4 separate regions of the Homo sapiens genome follow, and all the other regions are linked to region 3. Evidence: fine-mapped expression QTL. A gene starts in region 3. Each other region holds a variant in brackets. All regions are shown on one strand. Distances are from middle to middle.

The links. PIP is the estimated chance that this variant, and not a neighbour inherited with it, causes the effect.
Region 1: its variant is the best candidate, but not a certain one, in a credible set for the expression of LPAR3 in whole blood (INTERVAL, PIP 0.52).
Region 2: its variant is the best candidate, but not a certain one, in a credible set for the expression of LPAR3 in ileum (GTEx, PIP 0.79).
Region 4: its variant is the best candidate, but not a certain one, in a credible set for the expression of LPAR3 in prefrontal cortex (ROSMAP, PIP 0.58).

Annotation. Positions count from the first base shown.
Region 1 is chr1:84,858,810-84,864,387 of GRCh38, forward strand. The region is part of intron 2 of LPAR3 (lysophosphatidic acid receptor 3); the gene reads right to left. Among named protein-coding and RNA genes, the nearest start is that of LPAR3, 32 kb to the right of the region's middle. The variant C/T (reference allele first, on the strand shown) is at 2,554.
Region 2 is chr1:84,785,475-84,791,052 of GRCh38, forward strand. The region is part of intron 2 of LOC102724892 (a long non-coding RNA gene); the gene reads right to left. Among named protein-coding and RNA genes, the nearest start is that of SSX2IP, 98 kb to the left of the region's middle. The variant T/C (reference allele first, on the strand shown) is at 2,181.
Region 3 is chr1:84,890,362-84,895,939 of GRCh38, forward strand. LPAR3 (lysophosphatidic acid receptor 3) reads right to left here and starts at 2,845. Exons shown (of 3, transcript NM_012152.3): 1 at 2,655-2,845.
Region 4 is chr1:84,755,785-84,761,362 of GRCh38, forward strand. No RefSeq gene overlaps it. Among named protein-coding and RNA genes, the nearest start is that of SSX2IP, 68 kb to the left of the region's middle. RefSeq lists an enhancer at 853-1,424. The variant A/G (reference allele first, on the strand shown) is at 2,485.

The DNA.
Region 1 (5,578 bases), 32 kb before region 3:
GCATGTAAACAATTAAGTACGTTGATTGTTGTATGGACAAGACTGACAGGCAGCCCAAGGGAGGCAGTAATCAGATTTACTCCAGTAGGGCAAAGGAAGATTCAAAGAAGATAGACCTTTGAGTTAGGTCTTACAAGGTGAATGGGAGTTTCCCAGGCAGAACTAGGGGAAAGGTATCCCAACATCTGCAAAGGCTTAAAGAGACAAAATGGGGGAAGCGCAAATAATTCATTATAGCTTGAGTATAGGATACATCTAGGGGAGTTGCAGGAAAATCGGATAATAATACCTTAACTACTTGCTTGGCAGGATTTCCATGAGACCAAAGAGAACAGTGTATTAAAACTGAAAAAGACACAGTACTGCAGAAACATCATGTGTGATTATTATTAGTACTCTGGCAAGGCTCTTTATGGTACTTAATTTTCACCCATTTCCTCCTAGCATGAGAACTTGAGCTATCGTTTCGTTGCTTACTGCTACTTTGCCTTCTTCCTCTCTCCCCTAAGAGACAAAAGAGGATGATTTAGCATCAATCTAAGTGGAGAGGAGGGAGGAAGAAGTGAGAAGAAAAACAACCAGCTCCCTGTTTTAATTACCACAAGCCCTAAGTCCCTTAACAACGATAATGTTTCATATTTTAAAAGAGTTCAGTGCTTTCTGGCAGAAAAATAAACCTTGACCCTCAAGATCATGGTTTTTCAAACGTTCTTGACGATAACTCATGATAGGAAATACATTTTATATCACAACCCAGCACACACACAGGCACGCAAAGAAAGGTTATAAAACAATATTGATACCTGTTAAATGCAACACACTCTGACATTTTCTCTTCTTTTTATGTCATTTTAAAAAGTGTTGCTTACAATCTCATCAGTGCATCAAAACTTACAGTTTGAAAAACATCACTAAAGGACAGGAGGGTTCATGGAAGACTTCAAAAGAATGGTTTGCAAGTCCCTTCCCTCTTTCTTTTCTCTTGTATTTTAAGACACTGCAAAATAAAGCAAAGTCCAGCCCATTTTCTGGGAAATAACAAAACATTTCTGTGTGCACAGTTCACATGGTGTGTTGTTTGACAATAAATTAGACGTTTCCATGTGGGGTTTCTTGTGTGTTTGGTTGCTGTAGCTGATTAGGCTTGTTGACAAGTAAGATTTCAAAACCCTTTCTTAGGCAGGGCCTTGGTGCTCTTTGGAAAGCAGGATCGTATGTCTCCGATGTCTTTTCAATGAGAACATTCAATAAGCAACTTTTTTCACATAAAGGGCCCCATCACACATTCTAACCCAGAAGTGAGCAAGCATTTTGCCTCAGGGCTGCTGAAACGGGAACATGATGCCTTGATGCCTTTCCAATCATGCACACACAGATTGAAAACTCACATCACCATCATCACTACCACCACTACCCTCAAGGAAAGAGTCTGAATCCCCATGCTGTTAGCTTTTGTGTTCAACCAAAATCCCAAAGCTGGAAAGGAACACAAAGGTCATCTGGTCTACTCTCCTTCCAAAGAGGATAGCCAACTAAACTTTGCTGGTTCACAGGTGAGCTATTTTTCCACCGCACCACAGCAAGTATTTGTACTCTGTGGGGCCTTCCTCATGGTAATGCACAAGCTTTAAATGTTTCTATCATCACACTTCTGAGTATGCCATTTCTCCCTCTTAGAATGTGTCTTCCTCCAGCCCATGCAAATCCCACCTATCCTTCCAGATTACATCCCAGCCCATTAAGAAGCCGTCTCCACACTCAACAGCCCCTGTCCATCCTTTCCTCTTCTGAAATAAGATTAAGCTCACTGAATTCATGCAACCATGTACCTCTTAGATACTGTTTAATAGACAGTTAATATGTACTTAGAGACTGACTTTCTAATATGTAAAAGAAGAGGGTTCGTAAGAAACTTTAGGATTTAATTTTTTTTTTTTTTTTTTTTTTTTGATACGGAGTCTCACTGTCACCCAGGCTGGAGTGCGGGGGCGCCATCTTGGCTCACTGCAACCTCCACCTCCTGGGTTCAACCAATTCTCCTGCCTCAGCCTCCTGAGTAGCTGGAATTACAGGTGCCTACCATCAAACCCAGCTAATTTTTGTATTTTTAGTAGAGACGGGGTTTCACCATGTTGGCCAGGATGGTCTCAAACTCCTGACCTCAAGTGATCCGCCCGCCTCGGCCTCCCAGAGTGCTAGAATTATAGGCGTGAGCCACCACACCTGGATGGATTTAATCTTAAATGAATCTTTCCTACAAAATATGTATCAAGGAGTAAATGGAAATGTTTAGCATTTTATCATAAAGACATTTAAATCCTCCAATTATTAAAAACATGAGTATTAAGCTATTCATCTCCACATAATCAGAACCAGTGATTAGATGATGGTTAATGCCAGCACTGTTGATTTTTCTAATATACTATCATTTGGGAGATGCTTGTTTCAGGCAATTGAATTCTTACATGTAGTATGTAGGGAACTGGGGGCTTTCTCCCTAGGAAGATACTGTGGTAGGTGCTGCTGTCAAGGAAAGAGGCTCTGTGCTTGGAT[C/T]CACAGAAATGTTTGGTGCTGCCCCACAAGATTCATATTCTCTCTCTCAATCTCTCTCTCCCTCTCTCTCTCTCCACTCTTCCTTTTCATTCCCACCTTTGGTTACTAACTGTCATAAAGGATAATTGAACTTTGTAACTTGTAAAGAACTTAAAGATGGTCTATGCCACCTGATGAGGGAATCTAACCAAGAAAAGATGAGCTGATGTGCTGCAGATCACCCTTGTAGAAAATGAAAGAATTGGGGGTAAAACCCAAATCTTTCTGTTATCTAGAGAAATCAGGAGCTGGAAGTCTTCAGCCTTACACCACCTAGCTCTTGAGTTTCATTTCCCTCGTCCCTGAACTTCCTGTCTTCCACCAGGTTCCTCTGTCTTACCATTAAGGAACTTCTGAGGTCCTTGACACCAAACTGTCTTTCTTCCATTAACCAATTCCCCAATGTTGTCTTATCTCAATTGCATGACTTCTCTTATCCTACTTGGAAATTTAATTGTTCATTCTGGTTTTTCTCTTAGTCAATACCACACCTGCCAAAACCTCCCAGCTCCTTTCTTTTAACCCCTTCCGTAACTGTTGCAGACAAAATTACATACAAAACTGAAGTTTGTGACCATGACTGTCTCACAAAGGGTCCTGTTCTCTCCACCTAGGATTTTGGAATCCTTGTCTCTATCATGCTGTATACTATATTATAATATGATGAGAAAAGAAAGTTTTCTTTTTAAGCAGGCGGGTAATTTCTCAAGACACATAGCCAAGCAAATGATTATGCCTACAAGTTAAGCAGGGACAGCAGCACAGTTCATTGACACTATCTGTAAATACCAAAGTTCATTCTTTATCAAAAACATCAATATCTTCTCCAGCTCGAGGGGAAATGCCGATTAATGTGAACCCTCTTTTTCTTGTTCTTGTCCATTTTCTTATCAATGTGTCAACGGTGTCAAAGCAGAAGACAGGACAAAAAGATGAGCGTAAAAAGTCCAGATAAATCACAAGTAGCCACAGAGTATGGTGGTAAATATGTGAACTCTAGAGGCCAGCTGCGCAGTGAGTCTTGGTTAACAGCTGAGTGACTGGACACACTGCTTAAACTCTCAGTTTCTCCATCTGGTAAATGGGTATAATAGTAGCACCTATCTCACAGGGTTTCCATGAGAATTAAATAAGTTAATGTTTGTAAAAACACTTAGGACAATGCTTGGCACATATTAAGCACTATATAAATATTTGTTAAATAAATCCTCAGTTTGAAATTATTTTAACAATCACACTCTGTGTCTGCTGACCCCCAAATCTTACTAGCAGTTTCAGGACCTAGAGGCATTGTGAGGGTTTCTATACCACACCACACATACTGTATCCTCCACTATGAACTGCTACCTGATAATTCATTTTATAATTCCTTCTCATAAGGAGTAGACAGAAATGTACTCCTGAATCTCTCTCAGCAACAGTCCCCATTGCTGCAGCCACACACACAGTGAGAAACGGCCTCTCTGCCTTACAAGACAAGTTCTGTGAAACCACAAAAGTTCTTGTCTGCCCACACATTACAAATTCTACCTGTAACCCAGAATTAGAACTGGGGAGGTGGGGCAATAGGCCACCTACTTCAGAGAAAATAAAACAAAGGGAAAATTCTACGAAACCACATGTCTTCTTGGTACAGGGCTCACAACCTTTCTCTCCTCCCTTTTTTTTTTTTTGGTTTTGTTTTTGTTTCTTAAGACAGGCTCTTACTCTGTTGTTCAGGCTGGAGTGCCGTGGTGTGATCACAGCTCACTCAACCTCAACCTCCCGGGTTCAAGCGGTTCTCCCACCTCAGCCACCCAAGTAGCTGGGACTACAGGTATGCACCACCATGGCCAGCTAATTTTAGTATTTTTCATAGAGATGGGGTTTCACCATGTTGCCCAGGCTCTTCCTTTCTTTCTCAATTTTACTCCAATCAGGCTCTTGGCTATACCAAATGTGATGATCTCAAGATCAGCACAAGTCCACCACTTTGGTAAGGCCAGCAACACCTGGTCTTACACCACCTCTCAGGGGTACCAACACTGCTAATGCTTCCTCTCCTCGATTGCCTTCTTCTCTTTCTTCTAGTTCCCCAGAGTCTCCTGGGTTTTCCATCCCTTCTAGGGCTCCTTTGCTGGCTGCCCCTTACCTCCTGACCTCCTTACACTGGAGGGCCTGCCCTACGGCTCCATCCTTGGTCCTCCTCTCCTTCATATCCACATTCACGTTCATGGTGAGCTCACGCAGTCCTGTGATTTAAAATACCAGTTTCCCCCCAGGACTCTCAAATGTACATCTCCAGCCCAGACCTAAATCTTGAATTCCTGAGTCAAACATCCAACTGTCCACTCAATAAAATTGCCACACCCCTTGGATGTCTAATAGGTTCCTAAATTTAGCTTGTCCAAAACCAAATCTTCCCCCAAAACCTCCTCCTCTTCAGTCTTCCTCATCTTGGTTAATGACATTCCCCACCTTCTCCTCCACCTCTCATCTTCCCCTCTACCTTACCCATCAGTAAATCCTTTAAAAAATATCTGGAATCTGGCCAGGTGCAGTGGCTCACACCTGTAATCCCAGTACTGTGGGAGGCCGAGGCAGGCGGATGGCTTCAGCTCAGGAGTTCGAGAGTAGCCTGGGCAACATGGTGAAACCCTGTCTCTAAAAAAATTACAAAAATTAGCCGGGCCTGGTGGCACAGGCCTGTAATCCCAGCTACTTGGGAGGCTGAGGTAGAAGGATCACTTGAGGCCAGGAGGTGGAGGTTGCAGTGAGCTGAGATTGCACCACTGCACTATAGCCTAGATGACAGAGCCAGGTCCTGTCTCAAAAAAAAAAAAACAAAAAACAAAAAAACAGAATCTGACCATCACCTTCAACTACCATCTGGCCATGGTGATCTCTCCCGAGTACTGAAATACTCTATTAACCCATTTATGCCAGGGGTTGCAAATTTCTTTTGTGAAAAATCAGAACTTGTCAATGACCTTGAGCAGTAGGATAT
Region 2 (5,578 bases), 100 kb before region 3:
AGTACAAGACGGGCCTGCGTGTCTGCATGGAAAATGAAGTTGTTTCACCTTCCATGGCATTGTTCCACTCAAAGAAACAAGCTTTATTTATCTCAAAACTTGGCTTCTGTTGACTTGCCAGATGAAAAATGATGTGAAGTTACTGAAATCATCTGCTAAGGGAAATGAATCCAAGCACGGTGAAAGATGTTTTGCTGCTTTTTCAAAGCACATCAGTCAGCTTGTCTTACAAGCACAATATAATTTTCTACCAGGTAAAGACAGTAATTATTTCAATTAGCAATTGAATTAGATGTAGAAGATAATGAGGAATAAAGATGCTGAACTAAGTTCAATAACTCACCACATATGCTTCTCTTTCTTGTTCTAGCTAAAGTAGCAGTAAACAGAGTGAATTCAGCTGTGGGATGATAGGGGCCTTTCCCCGCAAGTGGACTGAGTCTCAATTCATCATTCACTGCCTGATGAAGAGGCAGTATAGCAGACATGAGATGCCAACAGTACTCAGCCTATGCTCAGTCCAGCACCATCCTTGGTGCACAGTGACCCTTGTGGAAAATGGGAAATTATGAAGTTCTATGGTAATTAGTGAAACAATAACTTAAAGATATTTTCAGTTCCACTGCTGAAATAAAATAAGGAAATTCCAAGGATCTAGAGTATTTTTATTCAGCATCTTCTGAGACCATTCCTTTGATTTCACTCATGTGCGTTTCTGGAACGGGAAGAAGGAAAAGAGAAGGGGAGAGAGTGCAAGAGCCAGGGCTTCCTTATTCTGGGAAGACTTTGACCAAACTAGGCTAATACGGCAGAAAGAAACTGACACAGCTGATGGTCTTTTTGCACGTTTAGCACATCTGAAGTTTCTGTTTTGATTAGCGCCTCTCCATGTTATCTGAAAAGTCTATCACTAAGCAAAAACTGACAGTACTTCAAGGAGTAATTGACAAATTTGTGATCAGAGTGGGAGCTTTAACATGTCTTTCTTAGTAACTGATAGATCAAACAGCCAAAAAATTCAGTAAAGTTATAAAGATTTGAACAAGACGATTAACAAGTTTGATATAAAAGACTTATATAGAGCACTGCATTCAACCACTGGGGAATATACATTCTTTTTAAAATCACATATTACCTTTGTAAAAACTAATTGTGAATTAGGGCAGAAAGCAAATATCAAATCTCAACAAATTCAAAGAATAAGTATCAAAAGACCACAACACAATTAAGTTAGAAAAAAGTGAAAATTATAATTAAAAATCTTCATACAATTAGAAATTTAAAACACATCACATAAAAATCCATAGAGACAGAAAGCAGATTGGTGGTTGCCAGGGGCTGGGAGGAGAGGGGAATTACTGCTTAATGAATAGAGTGTTTTCTTTTGGGGTGATGAAAGTGTGTTGTTACTGGATAGAGGTGGTAGTTACATAACATTGTGAATGTACTAAATGCCACTAAAGTGTGAATTGTATACTTTCATACGGTTAGCTTTATGCTATGTAAATTTCACCTCAACAACAAAAAAAAAGTGCTCATATCTCTGTGTTTTAATTCTTTTTTTTTTTTTTTAGATGGAGTCTCGCTCTGTCACCCAGGCTGGAGTGCAGTGGCACGATCTCGGCTCACTGAAACCTCCGCCTCCTGGGTTCAAGTGATTCTCCTGCCTCAGCCTCCCGAGTAGCTGGGATTACAGGTGTACACCACCACATCTGGCTAATTTTTGTATTTTTAGTAGGGACGGGGTTCACCATGTTGGCCAGGCTGGTCTCAAACTCCTGACTTCATGATCCACCTGCCTCGACCTCCCAAAGTGCTGGGATTACAGGCATGAGCCACCATGCCTGACCTCTGTGTTTAAATTCTAATGTGTGGATACACAGGTGTGTATAGTTTATGAAAGTTTTTCAAACCATTCACTTATAACACGTACACTTTCTGTATTAAATGTGTATATTTACATTTTCTATATTATGCTTCAAATAAAGAGTTTTAAAATGAAAAGAAAACATATTACTTAACTCATGGGTCAAAAAGAAATTGTGCAGGAAAATATAAAAAGCTAAGAACTGTATGACAACTACACTAAAAATGTGCAGTTTGCAGTGCATTTATTCAGACCAAGGGATGCAGGTGAGAAATCAGCTGTGGGAGAGGACGGCAATGGGTTCTCTTAAGTA[T/C]GTATGAATACGAATTTATAGGTTTGAATGTTTATTTGGGAAAAAATGCCACTTTAAACATAAAATTAATAAGCTAAGCATCAAACATAAGAAGGTAGAAAGAAAACAAAATTCCCAAAGAAAATAAAAAGAAGGAAATGACAACCTTAAATTAGATAATAGATACAATAAGTACAATCAACGAAGCCAAAAATTAACACTTTGAAGAGACTAACTTCTGGAAAGACTGTATAAGGAAACTAAAAAAATATATAAAGAGATAAGGCACAAATAATATTAGCAGAGAAAGTAGAATACAAACGGTCAAAAAGATAATAAAAATATAAAATGAAAAACCTTATCCAATAAGTCTGGAAATGTTCATTAAATGGACAAATTCCTAGAAAAATATAATTTGCCAAAACTGACCAAAAAAGAAATAGAAAGCCTGTATAACCAGCAGTAAAAATCTTCCCACAAAATAAATCCTAGGCTTAGAGAGTTTTATTTGTGAGTTTTACAAGGCGTTTCAATTACAGCTGAAGATTTACCAGTATGTTAAAGAAGCAGGATTCATGGGATATAATCCAGAAAGTTATTAGTTTTGTCTCCTATGGCCCCTTTAAATCTTCTCAGTGAAGGCAATCCTTCCCCTGCCATTGGATGAAAACTCAGGCAAGCCCTATATAAAATAACTATAAAATATTCACTTTTATAGTTGTTCTTGAGTAATAGAAATACCTTTATTCACTTTCAGACACAAACCCAGACTCAAATTAGTAACTTGACATAAAAAGCCAGGCTTTTTTTTTTTTTAATTATGCTTTCAGTTCTGGGATACATGTGCAGAATGTATAGGTTTGTTACATAGGTATACATGTGCCATGGTGGTTTGCTGCACCCATCAACCTGTTGTCTACATTAGGTATTTCTCCTAATGCTATCCCTCCCCTAATCCCCCATCCCCAACAGGCCCCAGTGTGTGATGTTCCCCTTCCTGTGTCCATGTGTTCTCATTGTTCAACTCCTGAAAACCCAGGCTTTCAATTTAAAAGTTAAGACTTCTCTTCACTCTACCTTCTTTTCCCCCAGCTAAGGGCTATGGCAGGGAGGCCACCTGTTTGGGGGAAAGACATAAAATCCAATCTCTTCCTTTTTTCTGTCTCACCTTGTCAATCACCCTCCCCTATACTAGTCAGGGGACAGAAAACACACCAGTTATTTGAGAAATAATTTAATATAAAGAATTATTAACTAGATATAAAGCTACTAACCAGGTAACAGAAGAGAGAAGAGAATGCTAAGGCGTCATAAGCAATCATTTGAGGAAATGGCTATCATTCCCAGGGCTGAAGAAATAAAAGGAAGAGATTGGAATTCTTGAAATCTAAAAGCTGAGACAAAGGATCCTGGTGAGCTGAAACCCTGACCCTGAGGAGGGGGAGATGATTGACTGATGGTGGTGTCTCAGCTCAGAAGAGCAGCCGGGGGAGGCTGGGGCCCGGACTCTGAACAGGGGGCACTGGTCAGCACATAGTCATGTCTCAGGTTAAAGGGGTGAATGTGACAAGTCTGGTCCTGCAAGTTTGGTAGAAATAGCGAACTGGATCAGCTGCTGCTATGGAAGGAACTACCACCAATGCAGTGAAGGTGCAGTGCTGGAGTGATACTCACAAGAACTGTGAGCAGAAAGGAAGTCCAAAGCAAGCAACTGGGAGGAGCACATTCCTTCTGCTCCTCCAGCCTTTGAGTTTCCCTCTAGCACCCCAATTGGCAGAGCCCAACAGGGAATAGCTGGCAAAGCAGAAAAATGATTTCCAGGGTTCCTGTCCAAGCACCAAAAAGCAGGGAATAAAAGGGTGGAATGAGCTGAAAGACAATTAATAACTCATACATCCCCCATCCATTTACTGCTGTTTCTGATCCTCTTCAGGTCTGGGAGATGGGGAAGGAAGACAGGCAGAAAGTCCTTACTTAACTGGTATCAGCAAGGTATTTGAAGCTGATTCTTTCTCTTATGGAATGCTTTCATGTGTACTTTGGAGAACCTATTTTCTTACCCTATCACTGCTGATTTCCTTTGATCTGAATGAATGCACAGTGTTCTGGAAGTTGCTCACTTACTACCCCTTACTGCCAAGGAAAGCAGTATCCACCTCTAGCTCATGCTGTAATGAAACCTGTTCACCTCTCCAATTGACCTGACTCTGAGTTCATCTATGATGACCCAATTCCCAGCTCTTTTGTGTATACCTAGCCAAGGAAACCATCGTACTGCTTTGTCCAGGCAAACTGGGGGATTACGAGCTGATTCAAGCCCAGCAGCATCTTTCATTCAATCCACCACCAAACCACTTAGCCTATCCTTTTCTTGCCTTCTGTGTTCTAGATGGGAGCTGGACACAAGTCTGCTGACCTGCCTAGGTGGAGAGGACGCATATGGAGCTTTCCACAGGGAAAACTTGAATCCCTTCTCAGTTGGCTCAGTTCATACTAGCAATGTTTTCCAAAGAAATCCTCTTCAAATCTCCATTAAACTCCCCTTTCTAGTCATTTATTTGCTTGAGAGGGCAAGGAGTTGTTAGTGTGAAGGAATGATTCCTGGATATTTCCTTTGGAAAGGCAATCTTGGTCTAACATTTCACTTTGAAAGTTTATATTTTTTGAATCTTGGTGCTTCAATTGAAACTTAATTTAACATCCTTTTTCACCATTCTTAAATTCTTCCTTTTCATCCTGAGATCAGTATAACATTGATCCTAAAATCAAATTAAATAGTACTAGAAAGGAAAATTATTGGCCAATCTTATTCACATGCAAATTCGCCAAAATTCTAAGCAAACTATTATCGACCAAATCCAGCAGGGTATGAAAAAAAGTCCATCACACTAAGTTGGGTTTATCCCAGGAATGCAAAGCTGGGTTAACATTATAAAATTAATTAACGCAATTCCTTATATTAACAGATTAGAGAAAGAAGACAATTTTATCATTTCTTTTCCTTTTCCTTTTTTTTTGAGATAGACTCTCACTCTGTTACCCAGGCTGGAGTGCAGTCGGATGATCTCTGCTCACTGCAACCTCTGCGTCCTGGGCTCAAGCGATTCTCCTGCCTCAGCCTCCTGAGTAGCTGGGATTACAGAGGCGCACCATCACAACAAGCTAATTTTTGTATTTTTAGTAGAGACAGGGTTTCACCATGTTGGCCAGGCTGGTCTCAAATTCCTGACCTCAGGTGATCTGCCAGCCTCAGCCTCCCAAAATGCTGGGATTACAGGCGTGAACCACCGCACCCAGCTGACAATTTTATAACTTTAATATACGGCAAAAAGCATTTGAGAAAAAGCAACCTAATTTGTGGTAGAAACACTGAAAATTATAATTAAGAAGGTAACTCGTTTAACAGGATAAAGGTCAAA
Region 3 (5,578 bases):
GTTAATACTTAAATTTTTATCTAGGAGGAAAAGAGGGCAACCAGCATTTAAGGAGTACTTCCTGTATATGAGAGACCATGCTCAGTGCTTTCTCTTTTAATCTTGGGAGATGGATATAATCTTCATTTTTACAGATGAGGAAATTAAGACTTAGAGAGGTGAAGCTATGTGCCCAAGGTCACAAAGCTTGGACTGGAACAAAAGCTGGTCTGACTGCAAAGCCTTGGTCTTCCATTTATACTGCATTAATAATGCCTTGGGCCTGGTCTCTGCCATCTAGAATCCTGCAAACAGACTTAACCACTCTGTTGGGTATAATCACAGGCCAGAAAGCATTTGAACTAATGTATACTCCAAGGAGAATGGCTAATGGGTAATCTGAGGTACAGTAATTCCCATTTCAGTTATAGTGATTCCCCTTGCCCCAGCCCAAAGAAATAAGAGGCGGGTCTTAAGTTATCACGCACTGCTGCTCCTCAGCAGCAGGCTGAGAAACTTGGGGGAGAAGCAGCCAGCCTTAGGCATGTGTGTATAAGTGATGTTGAGAGTGTGTGTCTGGGTGCTGCCTGGCTACAATGCTGTGTGTGCATTTCTTCCACTGTGCACGTGTGTTTCTGAAAAATGAGATGGAGAGTTAACATGCTGTAGTTTCTTAAACAGATTCCGGTGAACACACATGAAAAACAATCTCATACTTTAATGTTTTAAATTCAGTCTCCATTCATAGAAAACATATGCAGGCCTGTTCTAACAAATATCTTGCAGAACAGCAAGATATCTAAAATAGGTCTGATCTGATAAAAAAAAAAAGAGTGGTAGTTGATAAATGCAATTGAAAGGTTTAGACAAGAGGAGTGTCATATGTAATTAAATCAAAACCTCAAAGTTTCAAATTCTAAAGACAAAGAAAAAATTTTTGCCAAAATGACCTATTTTCTTAGTTATATGATAGTGACAATCAATGTAAGTGTTGTCCAAATAGTTAGACGTCCAGATCTCCACAGGATAACTAGTTCCTTGCTGTCTCAAGGCACAAGAGACAACTCTGGAAGCTTATCTCAAGTACACAACTCTGACTGGCAGGGTTTGCTCGCTCGTCTTTTTAGTATAGTCCAGTTTGTTTAGACAAGCCTGGGGTTAACAGAGCCAAGGTGTGTGTTTCTAACCGTATCACTTCTGTCCCAAAAAGAGGAAAACTCTGTTTACTGGACTCAGGCCACTAAATATCAGATCCACTGCCCATGGAAAGCAGGGTTAGCAACTGTTGATGGATCAATGGAAAATCCAGCAACTCTTCTCAGCGATACAAAAGTCCATGCATTAATGAAACGTTGTGCGGTACATGGAATTTGTAAAGAGGAGATTGATTGTCTGTCTGTAATTGACATTTACTTTATTCTCTGATACAGACTAAGTTGGAACCGTGAGAAAGCCCTTTATTTCTAAACGGCATCTCAAGACCAGGTAATGCTACTTTCGGAGGAAAAGGAGGAAGAAAAGCGTTGTAATGACAATAACAAATTACGGGGGAAACATTTCGTGGAAATTACTCAGTTTAAAAAACTGACCTAGCCGGGCGCAGTGGCTCACACCTGTAATCCCAGCACTTTGGGATGCTGAGGAGGGTGGATCACGAGGTCAAGCGTTCGAGATCAGCCTGGCCAACACAGTGGAACCCCGTCTCTACTAAAAATACAAAAAATTAGCCTAGCGTGGTGGTGGGCGCCTGCAATCCCAGCTACTAGGGAGGCTGAGGCAGGAGAATCGCTCGAACCTGGGAGGCGGAGGTTGCAGTGAGCCGAGATCGCGCCACTGCACTCCAGCCCGGATGATAGTGCGAGACTGTGTCTCAAAAATAAATAAATAAATAAATAAATAAATAAATAAATAAATAAATAAAAACTAACCTACAAATGCTTTTCAGGGCCATTTTAATGATTACCTTAATAAGACTAAATTGTTTCCAATATTCACAGTCACTCCTCAAATTACATGCGTGCGGAATTTCTAAGCAATTTTGTGTAGCTGCAACTTGTTGAGGGAAAGCAATAAAGTAACTCTGCTACAGAACAAAAGCACTTTTGTCTCGTGGTGGTGAGGGGGCATACCCTGAACAAACAACCCCGACAGTGTTGCTAGTTACTAGTTCCCGAATCTCTAGAAGCCTGCACATGGTTCAAGCTGTTCCCCAGCGGACACAGCACAGTACCAGATGTAACTGGAGGCTGAAAAATGTTATATCCCTAGGCTTCACGAGAGAACCCCAGTTTCCTAATCACCATCGATGGCAATGAGACTGAGTTTGGAAAGAACCACGTGTGCAAAGGCAGACGCAACCCGTGCGGCGCTCTCCTGGCCTCTGCGCCCAGCCCGCCAGCCCTCAGCAGCGGACGCAACGCCGATTTTGCATCTAGATTGCTTTTTGCTCCTAGCGGGGAAAAAGGTGGGAAAAGAGCAAGTTGTGCCATACACCCGCCGGGAGAGTCTTGTCCCGGGGTTTGGAGTGGGTCTGGAGCCCAGGCTTGCACGCCAGGCAACCCCGAAAAGCCGCAGGCTAGAGCCCTGCAGGCGCCGCTGCGCCCCGGCCTCCCCACGACGCACGCCCTGGTGACTGCGGCTCGGGGTACCCTCCCTGCGCCCGGACCCTCACTCACCGCTCACGTTCACCCGCGCCGCCGAGCCCGGGAGCGGGGGCCCCTGCGGCTGCCGCATGCCCTCGGGGTCGAGCGCGACGGGGCGACCGGGCGCCGGGCTCCAGCCGGGCGCGGAGAAGCAGCGGAGGACGCGGCGGGCGGGCGGAGCGCCTCCTCTCCAGCGACCCCTGCGACGCGTCCAGAGCCAAAGGAAAGTTTGGCGGTGCGAGGGAGGGACCTAGGGACAGCGGCCCCTCCCTGCCCCGCCCCGCCCCGCCGGGTGCGTTCGACGTTCCCACTGGAGAGCGTCCCCAACCTGCAAGGCCGCGAGCTGCGCTCAAAGGGGCCCGTGCGAGCCGCGGGAGGGCAGCGCTCTTGCAGACGCGTTCCTGCCTGGGATCGTCCCCAGGTGGGTGGTCGGCCGGCCCCGAGAGGGAAAAGCGCCCACTAAAGGACCGCTAGTACCCACAAGCCTCACGGAGCCATACCTCGGAGCTCCGTATTAGAACGCAGTCCCTCTGCCCCTCTGTCCTCAGAGATTTGTTTGAAGTGGCTGCGGGAAGTGCAGCCCACACCCACCACCCCCGTGGGAGGCAGGCTCTACTCCAAGCCCGACCTAACGCTGGAAACCTCAACCCCAAAGCTACCCGAGGGTGCGGACAGCCCCCAGAGGCAACCAACAATATTTAAGGTTCTTGTAAGAGGTTTCTTGGCCTCCTGGGGCAAATAGTCCTGGATACTTTGTTTTTCAAAGCTGAAATATAAAACCTCCACTGACCCACCTTTAGTAAAGAAGAAAGATGCAAAGTAAAACAAATGTCATGAAGGCATTGTTCTCTCTGAATTCTGCAAAGCAATAACGAAGTCACAGAAATGTTCAAAGTTGTGCTTTCCTGGTGACCTTACAAAAAGGAAATACTGTGAGGTGAAGTCCTTCCCACTCAGACTTCAGGCCCTTAGGAAGCAATGAGAGTTGTGTGCCCAGATGTCTTCCTGTGACCCTTTGCCATCCATCCATCCGTTCATTCATTCATCTTGCATTCACCATTAATACTGCGCCCTTCTGTGTGCCAGCTAGGAACCTCATCCTTGCAAACAACCTGTTAGATAATCTGTCCCCTACCATCAAAGAGATTCTGTTTTCTCTGCAGAGGATGTTTTAATAAGGTTACGTCCCTTACTCCGTGGGTCTTATCCTATAGACCATAATAGCCTAATGTGCCTCAAACCTCCCCGGGGCTACAGCTAAGTTTTCATCAGCATGTGAAAATTATTGTTTCATCTAAGTGTTCAGAAAATTATTGCGGTGTCTTGCAGTTGAACTGTGTAGAGAGAAGTACAACTTGCGAAGCTAGGGCTAAAGAAAGATCATGTGTTTACTTTTACAAGCAGAAGCTTTGCATATGATAAAAAAGCTCGGTGGCAAACATGGTGAAAACCCGTCTCTACTAAAAATACAAAAAGCCGGGCGTGGTGGCACGCACCTGTAATCCCAGCTACTCTGGAGGCTGAGGCAGGAGAATCGTTTGAACCTGGGAGGCGGAGGTTGCAGTGAGCCGAGATCGCGCCACTGCACTCCAGCCTGGGCGACAGAGCAAGACTCCGTCTCGGAGGGGCGGGGGTCGGAAAGAGCTCTCTCTGTCAAGGGAGAGAACAGCTCAGCTCAAACATCACGGTGCTGAAGGGCAACCTGGTAAACACAGAAATACTCAACCACCAGCATTTACTGAATACTTGACGCAACAAAGGTGTAGTATGTTGAGTAAGATGTTGCAGGCTAGACTGTAAACACCACTAAGAGCCTTCTTTTGCTGGGAAAATCTGTTCTGAATCCAAACAACTTACTAACAAAGGCACTTGGGAAACACATTATGTTGCATTATGTTGTACCTTGGGAACTTCCTGAACTCGAGGTAATTGCAAAGCAGAACAGGGATCCCACAGAGTTGAATCTGAATCCTTAAAAAAGGAGGAAAGTGAAGAGGGCATGGGGAGCTGTGTTGCAAAAGGAAAGAGACTTTCCAGATAGATGGTTTTTAACAGCTAGATGGGTCAGATGTGAGGGGAAGGCCAGAAGGTGTTACAGAGAAACAGATTCAGAGAGGAAAAGCAGTGATAAACAAACAAACAAACAAACACCTATGGGGAGAAGCAGGAAAAGAAAAGACGAGGCAAACGACAACTAAAAAGAAAGATGTGGCCCCCAATTCCTAGTTTTTAGAAGGTAGCCCAGGGATTATCCACCAGAACCTCCTACAAATCCTTGTTTGGCCTGTGGTGTCTCACTTCTCTACCGAAATGTTTTTATTAGCAAAGCCAAATTAAAATTAACATCAAAATGGCAAGGATGAAGGCTGAGGGTGTATTTTGTCTTAGAGATCACTGGCTGGAAAGTCATTCAAAACTTTCAACAAACATTTGCTAGTCAGCTTCATGTATACAAGTGTTGTGTTTTGTGTTCCTGGAAACACAAAGAGTTATAACGTTGTTTCTATAAGGAGGTAAAAGGGGCATTCCACAGTGCTTGATAGAATGAAATTGTGATGGCTGAAAGAACAATTGGGGGTGGATGTGGTGGCTCACGCCTGTAATCCCAGATATTTGGGAGGCCAAGGTTGGTGGACCACTTTAAGGCCAGGAGTTCAAGACTAGCCTGGCCAACATGGTAAAATCCCATCTCTACAAAAAATACAAAAAATTAGCCAGGCATGGTGGTGTGCACCTGTAATCCCAACTACTTAGAAGGCTGAGGCCAGAGAATCGCTTGAACCCAGAAGACAGAGGTTGCAGTGAGCTGAGATCACACCACTGCTCTCCAGCCTGGGTGACAGAGTGAGACTCTGTCTCAAAAAACAAAGTAAGTTTAAAAAACACAAAACTGCCTGCCTCCTTCCACAGTGAGAAGCAATGTGGGACTCAGGCAAGGCTTCCTCCTCTCTGGATTT
Region 4 (5,578 bases), 130 kb before region 3:
AGCTTGCACAGTAGCTTCACAATGAAATTATTTTGCCATTTGCTTCTAAGTAGAATTGTAATGTTGGCTTCTAGGTGCACCTCCCACTTCCTCCTTCATTTTTACCTATAATTTCTTTAGCATCGATTGAGAAAGTGTTTATTCAGGGCATAACCCTGTGATAGGTACTGTGAGCGATATGAAAAAAGCCATGGGGCCAACTCTTTTAAAAAGGTGTTAATTGGATTTTTCCCATATAAAACCCCCCATAGCATTTTATTTCCTAACTCTGCTTCTCACCGTCAACTTCATTTGCCTATTTAATGCAATTTGCTTCTCATGATAAGATTCTATTAAGTGATTATTAAGACATTCTGAGTTACCTCAGCCAAGTACATCTATAATCATTACCTACCTCCTGGGGGTGATTTGAGGTGTAATTAGTTAAAGCTCACTGTTACCTCCCAACATCTGAACGACAAACAGAGACCACTTCTACACAGCCAGTCTGTGAGCCTGGTGCAGCCTGTTCACATTTACATAAATCCCATAGATCCAGGTTTCACGAGAGCCCATGTTGGGTCTGTAGAAATAGAGAGCATACTGAAAATTGCCTACCTCTATTTATATCAAATTGTACCCCTGAGGGTTAATTTCTTTTGGTTTCTAAGTGATATTATTTAATAGCCCTAACGTTAGTGTTAATAAAACAAACACAATAAACCTCCACTAAAAATTGAGATATGCTGGAACAAATCAGCCTAGCACGACCCTCAAACCTCTTATTCTTTCAGTCCTTCAGAACCATTTATTGAACTTCTACTGTATGTGAAGCATTGGACTAGGCTCTAAGGCTGTGAAATTCAGAAAGAAAGTCACTTGTCCTCAAGGAATTTATAGTCAGCAAATTTCACAGATGGTGATAATGACTTTTAGAAAACTTTCACATTTACTCAAAAGCCTATCTAGTATTGAGGGGGTGAGGGGGGGTGAGAGAGAGGGTGAGAGGGGGGGAGGGGGGAGAGAGAGAGAAGGGGAGAGAGAGAAGAGAGCGAGCAGGAGGCTCCAAGTGGTTTAAATACTTTATTGATGAAAGTTCTCAAGTCAAATACCAAAGGCCCCAGGGCTCCTGGGATCTTTTCTCATGGAGAGCTACTTTTAGCCCATGGAAGATTAGAGACATTTAATTAGGAGGAGGAGGTGAACTGTTTCAGTAGGCACACAGACAAGAAGAAGGAGAGACATGGATAGCATCCTTGTAATAAGTAATCAGGTAGAAAAACTGAAAGAAAAAAAGAAACAAGAATTCATGGAGCATTGCAGTGTGGAGATATTTAGTATAAAGGCAAATAGCTTTGTAAACCCCAATGGTCTTGAGGGTTTCAATTTGCATTACAGCACAGTACAATAATTTATTTTCATAATGACTGGAACACACGAAGGCAACTTTAGAACATGGCTACTAGGCAGTAGAATAGGGAATAGAGAATGATTTCCATCAAAAACTATTTCTAGAAATTTAAATCAGTCTTAAAATGATTTAAATCAGTTCTTAAAGTAATGCTTCAGTTATAAGATACAGTAGGCAAATTCTAATTCAATATAAAAAAGTGCTTTCTAGCCATTTTAGCCTCCTTTAAAGCGGATTTATTGACCTTGGGAGGTGGTGAGCTTTCTGTGGCTTAGAGGAACGTAAGCTAAGTGCAGACAGCCACCTATGAGAACGCTGCAGAGGGACTTTGAAAGTCCACCTGCTGGTCAAATCCAGACTGCCGCAAATTTTGTACAGCCTGAGAGCTAAGAATAGTCTTTACATTTTAAACTGAAATTGTAAAATTAAAAAAAGCCTTTTAGTGAGAATAGTTGTTCAATTTTGCCTCCACCCACAAAGCCTAAAATGCCAACTATCTGCTCCTTTACAGAAAAACTTTGCCAACCCCTACTCTAAGGAGTTGCTCTTTCCCAACTCTGAGGCTCCGGGAGCTGAAGCACACCTCATTTTCTCATGAAGGCTCAATGAAAATGACTCGATATTAAAACTGCTTTACTCTGGCCAGGGTAGAGCATCCTTTTAGATACTGACAGTCTCTGGAAATCGGCCTTGATCTAGTGTTAGGTAACGCTTGCTGGGATATACAAATATCAGATTTCGTACTTCTCAGTCTTACAAATTAAATTTTATACTTTCAGATTTTATTCACTGGCTAGGGAGAAAGACAACTCCATGCGCTTCACTGAGTAAATAGCAGAAACAGGGCGTATTTCAAAGCCACCCAGACCTCCCCTTATGTCAATGCCACAAACAAGGCCCAGTGAGCTCTGGGCCATTCTTAGGGGTTCCACCAGGGAAGATGGTAGAGGTGAGGTCATCGTCTCTTGATGGTAGATGCACAGGCCAGGGACCATTATATTATTTTTACCCTAAAAGAGAAATGCCCTTAGGAAACAAAAGTGTTCATAGTTTTCTCAAATTTTTTCTCCTATGTTTTTCCCTCTAAGTCTGGG[A/G]GTAAAAAACTCTTAGCTTAGAGAAATGCCATCTCCACCTATTCTGCCTTTGCTGAGAGATTAGCAACCCTTGAAAGGCTTTGGTCTCCAGGCATGCCGGGGGCAGGAAGAAAATGTCTGGTCTTGTGACTCTCCCAGGTGTGAAGTGATGGTTTCAGTAATGTCAGTGTGATTCCTGGGTCTTAGAAAGAAAAATAAAGCAGAAGAAAACCCTGGCATAACCCAGTGAATGGTAGCTTAATGTCATAAATTCCATGGCTCAAGTCAGAACAACAGTCTTTGGAGGATTTCATTCTCTCCAAGGACAAATACGTGTTTCCAGTTGGTTTTATAAATGTGTATCTATGTGTGTTTGCATCTTTCCTGTGGCAGAGTGCCTAGACACGGGCAAGTCATCTGTGGATAACAGCATGCAGCATGTGACATGAAAAATCACACATTGTATGTTTAATTGCTTCAAGGCATTACACACACACACACACACACACACACACACCCCAGCTTAGTGCTGTGTGACTTCTGCCACTGCCTCCTACCCTATTTGTCAGATTACAGGGACACAGAGCAAAGTTTACTGCACACAAAAAAGCCAAACTAATGCTACGAGCCATGCATGGATTCTCCCTGTCTTCCATTTAGAAATCCCCGAGTAAAAAAGGATTATGGTCCTATCACATTTTACTAAACATTCATTCTGTGACCCAAATAGCTCCTGAAGACACAGTTATCACCCACTGTGGGTGCTTTCTTTGTGACTATTTTCAAAGGCATCTGCGGGATAGGCTAGAAATATCAAAATATCATTTGGAGATAAACTGTGGTCAGGACCTATAAATAGCTGCTTCCCTTTAGTGTCTCCGCCCCCCTGTTCCCTGGTCCCCCCTTCGCTCCATACTGCTGCCCTTCACCTTCTTTTTTTCTCACACACAGGATCACATGCTCCTCCCGGGGAATGGACTTGGACCACGTGCATAAGAAATGGCAATCTGGACGGGCACATTTCCTCTGTCACAGAACTGTGTCTTGTATCCCAGCATCCTCCCCACCTCCTTCCCGTGGCCCTGTTTCACAATTAGAATGCAGCTCGGAGTGGAAAGAACTGGCACCCAGCAGATGGCTGCAGGCAGTACCTTCACGCAGCCCCGACGCCCACTCCTCGGCAGCAAGAACTGGGGAGCGCCATATGTCAGAGCTGCCGCCGATGCCAGCAGAAGGGAGGCTTTGTTCTTTTGATGGGTTTGTTTTGAAAGGGGAACATAAATAATACACACCCACCTCTCCTTCCCCAGCAATCTGGGCAGAGCTTGCCGGCAGTCCTTGTGGCTCAAAGTGCCCCAATTGTTCCCTGAACATGGCTGAGTATGAGGGCTGGTCTTGGCCACCAGATGGATTAAGTCTGATTAATTTTCAACCGTAAATAATGCTTTTCTCATATTTAATCAGTGAATACTTAATCAGCTTTTCCCTGGGAAAAAAAAATCATGTTTCCCTAAAAAATTAAGATATTTGTTTTCACACAATCCAAAAAGCTTCTTGCAAAGTCTATTGGAGCGATGGATGGCCCACCCCCTTGACTAATGTGTGTGTGTGCAGGCGTGGAGGGGAAGGCTGAGGCCGGAGTGTGTGCAGAAGGGAGAGGAGCGGGGTCAGAATGACCTCGTGGCTCTTGAGGAAAACAGTCCAGTGAAGGAGCGTCCAGGTCTGTCCTGCCACCAGCTGGCCAGGTTTGTTTCTCCTCCAGAAATCCTGCATGTTCTCAAAGTCACTCACTTCAAGCTGTGAAGAGCGTCCCTAAGCCCCGAGAAGGCAGCACAACCTTGCTCACCACTTATTCAGGCCGGGCAGTGCTGGGCACATCATAAATCCTCAGTAATTTCGGTTGGATAAGTGAATTGTGGTTAAATGAATGACTGCTTCTTGGGTTAAATTCTTGATAGCTTAAAATGTGTTTTGGGAACACATGGTTGTGTGTGTGTGTGTGTGTGTGTGTTTGAGTGTATATAAGTATACAAAAAGGAGCTAAAATAATCCATCTATAGAATGTACAGCACCAAGAGTGAACTGCAATGTAGACTATAGACTCTGGGTGATAATGATGTCTCAGTGTAGGTTCACTGATTGTAACACATGCACCCTTCTGAGGAGGAGGTTGATAATGGGGAAGCTGTGCATGCATCGTGCAGGAGGTATTTGGGAATTTTCTATACCTTCTGCTTTAATTTTGCTGTGAACCTAAAACTGCTCTAAAAAACAAGTTATATTAATTTAATAAAATAATCTATTCAAGGTATTAATCATGTTTAATATTATTTATTGCTAGTCTCTATTTTCTGTTTTTCATGTATTGTTTTTATTATTAGAAAAAAATTAGCTTTATTTGGAAAAGGAAGCAAACATGTAACATTTGTCTTACGAGTCTCAGGGCTGAAGAGTATGCTGGTAAGAAGGAAAAATAAACCAAAGCAATATCAATCATCATCATCACAGTAGTTGCAATTTATAAAGAAACTAGAGTGGATGCCCTGTGGAAGACACTGTTTTATTTTACATGCATGAACTCATGTAATCCTTATGACCGCACTATGAAATAGTAACTGTTATTAACGCTTTCCACAGAAAGAAAATCCATTAATGCAAACAATTTATGTTTTTAAACAGTGTGCATAGTGCAAAAATAAATGAATAAACACAAAATACAATTTTGCAACACTAGCATGTAACTGACAACCAGGCTCTGAGGTACTAGCAGCATCAGGAAGTCCACCTGAGGGACAACACCTGCCTTGTTGGTTTTGAGAGGAATAAATAACATATAGAAGTTTCAGGCACTGTCCCTGGCTTTGAGCTGGGACTTAATGAATGGTGGCTGTTTCCTAAAACCAGTGGTCCAGTCTTTCCCACAGTTTCTCTGGGATTTTTTAGGGGATGAATTGGTAACATCTTAGGCTTCAACTGCAGCATCTGGAAATACCAACAACAACAATAACAACAACAATAAAATGACCACTTTTGAGACTTAAGTGTGGGTCAACCCTGTGGTAGGTTTTATAGCTGTTACCTCAGTCATTTCTGTCTACTAACTGTGCTGGTCCAG